2 linked regions of the Homo sapiens genome follow. The protein of the gene in region 1 interacts with the protein of each later gene in a pairwise test. Each region holds a gene or a part of one and is shown on either strand. Other genes may lie near its edges. The genes, in order: GALNT6 and SLC5A6.

Evidence for each region.
Region 2: the proteins of GALNT6 (region 1) and SLC5A6 interact in a two-hybrid assay, tested with the Homo sapiens proteins (one large-scale study listed by BioGRID and IntAct).

The regions. Positions count from the first base shown.
Region 1 is NC_000012.12:51,377,598-51,381,410, reverse strand, and holds part of GALNT6 (polypeptide N-acetylgalactosaminyltransferase 6), read left to right. Parts: intron 1-1,526; 5' UTR 1,527-1,629; coding exon 1,630-2,120; intron 2,121-3,813. UniProt on the Homo sapiens protein: Catalyzes the initial reaction in O-linked oligosaccharide biosynthesis, the transfer of an N-acetyl-D-galactosamine residue to a serine or threonine residue on the protein receptor. May participate in synthesis of oncofetal fibronectin.
Region 2 is NC_000002.12:27,199,065-27,202,559, forward strand, and holds the end of SLC5A6 (sodium-dependent multivitamin transporter), read right to left. Parts: intron 3,011-3,495; coding exon 2,924-3,010; intron 2,784-2,923; coding exon 2,602-2,783; intron 2,390-2,601; coding exon 2,286-2,389; intron 2,050-2,285; coding exon 1,934-2,049; intron 1,516-1,933; coding exon 1,372-1,515; coding exon of another isoform or gene 1,326-1,371; 3' UTR 523-1,325; downstream 1-522. UniProt on the Homo sapiens protein: Sodium-dependent multivitamin transporter that mediates the electrogenic transport of pantothenate, biotin, lipoate and iodide.

The sequences.
Region 1 (3,813 bases):
TCTGCAAGCATTCATCCTCTAGGGCATGGATCCACATGCCTGGGGGTGGAGCCTGGTGAACGCCCATGCCCAGCCCTGCCGGGAATGTCTTGTCATGAAATCTTAGGTTTCTGTTAAATTCTTTTTTATTAAATAGGAGTAGATTACAGATAACTTTTATTTATTTATTTTTAAAGACAGAATCTCTCTCTCGCCCATGCTGAAGAGCAATGGTGCGATTATAGCTCACTGCAGCCTTAACCTCCTGGGCTCCAGCAGTCCTCCTGCTTCAGCCTCCCAGGCAGCTAGGACTACAGGTGTGCACCACTACGCCTCGCTAATTTTTAAAATTTTTTATTGAGATGGGCTCTCAATACGTTGAGCAGACTGGTCTTGAACTCCTGGGCCCAAGCGATCCTCCCACCTCAGCCTCCCAAAGTGCTGGGATTACACCATGCTTGGCCAAGAAATATTTATAAAATACGTATAGGGTCTAAAGAATTACAGTCCACCAGCAGCCGCCATCCACTTTGAGAAAAAAACACTTTGAAGTCCCCCATTAACCATCTCTAATCCTGTACCGTTTTCTTCATCTTCAGAAACTGGTTATGTCATTTCTTTAGCTTTCTTTTTTTCGTGGGGAGACGGAGTCTTGCTCTGTTGCCCAGGCTGGAGTGCAGTGGCATGATCCTAGCCTACTGCAACCTCTGCCTCCCGGGTTCAAGTGACTCTCCTGCCTCAGCCTCCCAAGTAGCTGGGATTACAGGCATGCGCTACCACGCCCAGCTAATTTTTGTATTTTTAGTAGAGACAGGGTTTCACCATGTTGGCCAGGCTAGTCTTCTTTAGCTTTCTTTATAGCTTTATCACATATTTGTATTCAAGAACAAGATATTGTTTAATTTTAGCATGTTTTTACATTTTCTATAAGTGGAATCATACTGTATGTATCCTTTTGTCACTTGCTTTTTTCACCCAACAACACATCCACATTGTTGCATGGAGAAGTGGTTCATTCTTGGTCATCACTGTAGAGCACTGCACGGTATGGGTATTTTGCACTTTATTTATTCATTCTGCTAGTGGACTTAAAGGTTTTACCAGTTTGTTGCCATTTAAGTCAGTGTTGGCTTAAATGTTCTTGTACATACCTCTTGGTTTGCATCTACCAGAGTTTGTCTGGGATATAAAATGAGGAGTGGAATTGCTGGCTCAGGCTGTGTTCATTTCAAATTTTTCTTGATAATACCAAGTTGTTTCCCAAAGCCATAATGATTAAATCTCATGAGTTTAATGATTAAATCTCATGTAGTGTTTCAGTGTTCCAGTGACTCTAGATCCATGCATATTAGGATCTTAGGGCAGGAAAGAAACACTGCCTCCGGTCTCCTCATTTTATGGATGAAGGAAATGTAGATATGGGAAAGTTGTGGCCAATAAGGTGATGCCACCACTCAGCAACAGAGCCTGGCCTCGAACCCCAAGCACCCGACTCCCTCCTTACCCTGTGTTGGCTCACTTCTCTCTCTTGTCCCCTCCTTTCTCAGGCTGAGGCCCCAGCTTGTGGCCACCACAACGTATCAAGCTATCTCCAGGGTTGGGCTCAGGACTCAGAGCTGACGCAGCTGGGGTGCCCCTTGGTTCTGGAGGATGAGGCTCCTCCGCAGACGCCACATGCCCCTGCGCCTGGCCATGGTGGGCTGCGCCTTTGTGCTCTTCCTCTTCCTCCTGCATAGGGATGTGAGCAGCAGAGAGGAGGCCACAGAGAAGCCGTGGCTGAAGTCCCTGGTGAGCCGGAAGGATCACGTCCTGGACCTCATGCTGGAGGCCATGAACAACCTTAGAGATTCAATGCCCAAGCTCCAAATCAGGGCTCCAGAAGCCCAGCAGACTCTGTTCTCCATAAACCAGTCCTGCCTCCCTGGGTTCTATACCCCAGCTGAACTGAAGCCCTTCTGGGAACGGCCACCACAGGACCCCAATGCCCCTGGGGCAGATGGAAAAGCATTTCAGAAGAGCAAGTGGACCCCCCTGGAGACCCAGGAAAAGGAAGAAGGCTATAAGAAGCACTGTTTCAATGCCTTTGCCAGCGACCGGATCTCCCTGCAGAGGTCCCTGGGGCCAGACACCCGACCACCTGAGTAAGTAGCACCCAGAGTCCTTGTGGGGAGACCAGGGCTTTGCTAAAGGCATGGCTAGTATGGCCAGGGCCATAGATCAAGGGCCAGAGAAAGAGTTGAAGGGAATTTTATAATATGGGCAAGGATCTCCTCTATGCCTCACTTCTTTCCCAGAACAACTGTGCTGATCCCAGGGGTTGTGATTCAAGGGTATTATGGTCAGGCCAGAGGCCCAGGGAGACCTGTGAGAGTGAAATGCAATTATGAAAGTGAGATGATGTGGAAGAAGGAACTCAGCCTGGCACCAGGACCTGGCACGGGGTGACTGGGGAGACCTGATACCAAGCTGTGGTTTCAGTAGCTTTCTCCTCTACTGAGGCCTGCTCCAGAGACTGTGGGACTCTAATGCTGAGCTGTTTGGGGGGGGGGTGGGCATTTCTTAACAGCAACCCTGGTGGTTAGGAATATCCTCACACCTGGTTTCCTCCAGTGAAGGCCCACAAGGCCGGAATTGATTCCAACCTTTATCTGAAGTTGTTTATAGCCTCAATCTTGCACAATGAGATCTCACTTAGATCTTTGAGTGGCAGCCCCCTCCCTCTAACGCCCCCATGGCTGCATTCCCATGATCCTCAAGTTAAAGACAGTGTGTCTTCCCCACTTAGCCTTTGTCTTTTCCAGGTCAAGTGTTATACCCTATTTGGCCTTTTCTCAAATGGCAGCCCTCATCCCCAGATTTCGTGAGTCTTTAGGGCTGTGAACCTGAGGTTCTTGAGACTTGAGCCAAGTATGATAGCCCTAGAACAAGGGGCCACTTGAAGCTATCAGGAATTCCTCAGCAGAGAAGGGCACTGGGGCCAGGCACAGTGGCTCATGCCTATAATCCCAGCACTATGGAAGGCTGAGGTGGGTGGATCTCTTGAGGCCAGGAGTTCAAGACCAGCCTGGCCAACATGGTGAAAGCCTGTCTCTACTAAAAATACAAAAAAATTAGCCCGGCATGGTAGTGGGTGCCTGTAATCCCAGCTACTCAGAAGGCTGAAGGACAAGAATCGCTTGAACCTGGGAGGTGGAGGTTGCAGGGAGCTAAGATCATACCACTGCACTCCAGCCTGAGTGACAGAGCAAGACTCTGTCTCAAAAAAAACAGACAGAGAGAAGAGCACTGGGTGTGACAGCAGCCAGAGGAGGAAGACAGGGAATCTCTCTGGAGGGTCCCCAAGAAATCCTCTGACCAGCAGAGGAGGTCAAGGAAAGGGTGTGAGGTCACATGATTCCTTGAGATCCAGGATTCACACATTCCCACCCCAACCCTGAGATAGAGTGTCAAGAAGGTAGCAGCATGGCCAAGTGCCACAGAGTAGCTGGAGTGGATGAAGTTGGAAGAAAGGTTGCAGGAAATTGACTGTGATAGTGGTGTCAAATCACAGGGAGTTAATGAGAAAATGGATTAGAGAGGAACTGTACGCTGTAAAGGGAAGAGCCTTTTCTTCTCATTGAGTATGGAAATCATAGTCACTTTTCTCAGATGTCAAATTTGGCCTTTATTACCTACCCCTCTGGGACCTCTGGATTGGATTACATTTTATGCAGTTCACATATTACGGAGGAAGAGAGCCAGCCCTGGGAACTCCTAGCCTGAGAGCAGATAGCAGATGAAGGAAGGGGGTGGAGGAGCCTCAGCATCACAGCTGGGGCACTGAGCCAGCTCTGT
Region 2 (3,495 bases), on another chromosome or scaffold:
GCCCTGGGAGAAGGCCTCAGTTGAGGCTGAATTCAGATATGCCTGGGACCCGGTCTCTGTTAAGAGACCCCGGAGAGCTGGTGCAGAGCTGATGTGGGCAGCTGAACAGGGCCAGGCAGGGGCAGAGGCCAGGTGTGGGAGGGTGTGAGCACAGTGTTCTTCACAAGACCATAAAAGTCCAGCTAGAATGTTCCGTTTCTAAAATCAGATGGGAACATTCTTCCTCCAGTTCCAAAAGTAAAAATCTGAGAGCAAAAGGTTCTGGCAAAGGGAAAGTGGGGCCGGAGAAGGGACAGACTAAGTAAGCCCCAGGGGATGAGAAGCCCTAGGAGAGGGTGTGCATCTTCTACCATGGTGAGCACAACACTGTCCCCTGCAGACACAGGGACAGCAGGGACTTGAAGCCACAGCCCCCCTCCTCAGCACAGGAAGGTGACCTGTACATAGGATAGGACTCCTTATCCTCACCAGAGGATGCAGTAGGGTGGACAAGAGCAGGTGAAGACAGTACAGGAGCCCAAATTCTAGGTCCAATGGTAGTTTTTATTCCCCAGGAACAAAGATAATGTGGAGAAGAAACTCCAAAAGGAAACAGAGCACGGATGACAGAAATGACACCACGGCAGCCTGGCTCAGGAGTCAGGTAGATAGATGGCTGCTCCACAGTGGACCCGGTCATGGCCCTGGTTTCTTGGATCCACATTTGCCCCGTCTCTTAAGTGTCCATCTCAGAGGTGGAGGATGGAGACAGTGAGGTGGAAAACGTGCTTGCTCTACACAAAGACAAATGGATCTTCTATTCCCAGAGGACCAGGGACACCAAAACCTCCCTCTTCAGAATGGAGGTAGACAGATAAAAATGAGAGGGGCTTGAGTGTCACAGACAATCTGAAAGTAATAATAGGGGCTCACTGTGGCTGGCAGAACTGGTACTGAAATGGGGACTACAGGGGAAGCAGCTTCCAGTTTTATGGTGGAGAGTCAGTCCTGAATCAGGCCCTGGGGCAATTATAACCAGAGTGCTGTTTCTAGCCACTTACTTCAAAGGACTATGGCTATGTTGAATCAGAAGCCATTATCTTTTTCCCAGAGGATGCACTTCCATCCCTATTTCTGGCATGATCCTGCTCCCTACGAGCCTGATCCTTTAAAAAACAGATTGGCAAGCGACGAGAAAAACGGTGCCTCACATGCTTGAGATGTGACAGCTTCTCCTGCAGGCAAGAACCTCTCAGAACAAGGTCCTTTGGTATGAGCTAGATCATCCAGGCCTGTCCCTGCAGAACACACCAAGACTCATCCCTGTACTACAGGGTGGCCTCTGGCTATGGCCTGGCACAGTGAGGACAGAGGCGGGGTCCTGAGTCAACATCACAGGGAGGTCTCCTGGAGGATGCAGGTGGAGCTGCTCCCCTGATAGGCTGTGCCATCCAGGGCCATGGCCTCCTTGTCTCTGCTGTCCCCCAGCACACCATTCCTCGGCTTCTCAGGAAACAGGCCAGTGTCGAGGTGGTCCTGCAAACACAGAGCCAAAGGGGTGGAACTGGTGAAGACGGATGACGGGTGCTTGACAGGATTCACACAAAAAAGGTCCCCGCCAGAAGGGAGCCCAGCAAGGCTGGGTTCGGGAGGGAGAGCAGGGGGAAAAGAGGGAGGGCATAGCACAGCAGGGAGCACAGGGTGGGCTGGGGAGGGGAGCTGACTGGCCCAGGCTGGGGCTGAGCTCCTCTGAGCCCTGAGATCCTTCTGCCCACCAAGCCAGTGCAGTCCTGTGGGTAGAACCTGAGACAGCCGTGTGGGACAGCCTAGGCTTAGCTGATCCTGAGAGAGGCACCCGGGGCAGGGGGAGAGAAAAGGGGTAGAAGGGAACCTGAAGAGTCAGTGGCATCTGTGGAGAAGGGCAGGGAGGGGTCACTTGGACAGCAGGTACTACCTGGCCGTAGCTCCTGCAGTGGAGCCGCTTCTGACAGGACAACGGAAGGAGGGACAGGAGCTTTGGCAACACTGGGTAAATGGTTGCAGGGTTCAGGGACCGGCCTCGCATTCTCCCTGAATGGAAATGTGCTTCTGAGTCTCTGGGTGGAACCATCCACAGCAGCGGGCCCCATGTCCTCCCTTGGCCCCCAGAGACCCCAGCCCCCACCCACCTCCTACATCCCAGCAGAAAAGCCTGACAGCTACGGACACCCAAGAGCTCAGAGGGCAGGAGCCTTTCTCCCTAGAGTCCCTTAGGGCCCTCTGTTAACCCCTCGGTGCTCATCTGCACCGCAATCCCACACCCTTACCAGTGAGTAGACTGACAATCAGGCCCACCACAATCACTGTGGTGGAGTTGTGAGCACTGTACCATAAGTAAGACAAGGAATAGAACCGCTGCAGCCCTGTGGGCCTGGGAAGAGCAGAGGTGAGAACAATTAGCAATTCGTTGGCAGGGCATTCCTTGGGCACCAATCTCTACTTGCCCGCATGGTCCCAGGGTCTTGGGACCCAATACCCAACATTTCCCTGGGGCCTCTGGTGGCCCATCCCTTAGCAAGACCCCTGTGAAAGCCCTCAAAGGAGGGCTTTGAGAAAACAAGAAGATAGCAAGCCCTGCCTTACTTGGAGAAGGTAGTCAAGGGCATCAGTGTGGTCACAGTGGCAACGGTTAGATTGGTGGGCAGGGAGAAGCTGGACCCATTAGAGGGAGAGGGTGGCATGCTGGAGCCCATGCTGGTCACGATGCTCCCGATGCCAATCCAGAAGGCCATGACGAGCCCAGCCAACAGGCCCACAACAGCACCCTGCCGAGACACAGTGCAGGCCTGTCACAAGGCCAGTCCTGCCAGCCCTCACGGCAGTCCTCAGCTCTCCTGGTGACAGCCCTGCCAACCCCCAGGTCCATCCTGCTACACATGACTGTGGATCCAGATGCATCACTCACAGGAGGGTTAGCACATGGAAAGAACATTCCAAGGCAGAAGAGTCCCAGCAGCGGTCCCCCAACCATGCCAAAGATGCTGATTGCTGCCTAGGAGGACAGGGTGAGAAGAAAAGGAAAAAGAACACAGACTCAGAGATGCCCAGACTCACCATAAAGCATAGCCACCAGCCATGACCTTGGAGCCCCACTTGTCAGATCTGTCTCTTCTGTGGGAACAATCAGAACTCCAGAGGTGGCCGAGCGGTGGCTCATGCCTGTAATTCCAGCAGTTTGGGAGGCCGAGGCGGGAGGATCACCTGAGGTCAGGAGCTCCAGACTAGCCTGGCCAACATGGTAAAACCCCGTCTCTACTACAAATACAAAAATTAGCCAGACACGGTGGCACATGCCTGTAGTCCCTCAGCTACTTAGGAGGCTGAGACAGGAGAATCACTTGAATGTGGGAGGTGGAGGTTGCAGTCAACTGAGATCGCGCCACTGCACTCCAGCCTGAGCAACAGAATGAGACTCTGTCTCAAAAAAAAAAAAAAAAAAAAAAGAACTCCAGAGGGCAGGAAAGGCTGCTAGGGGGC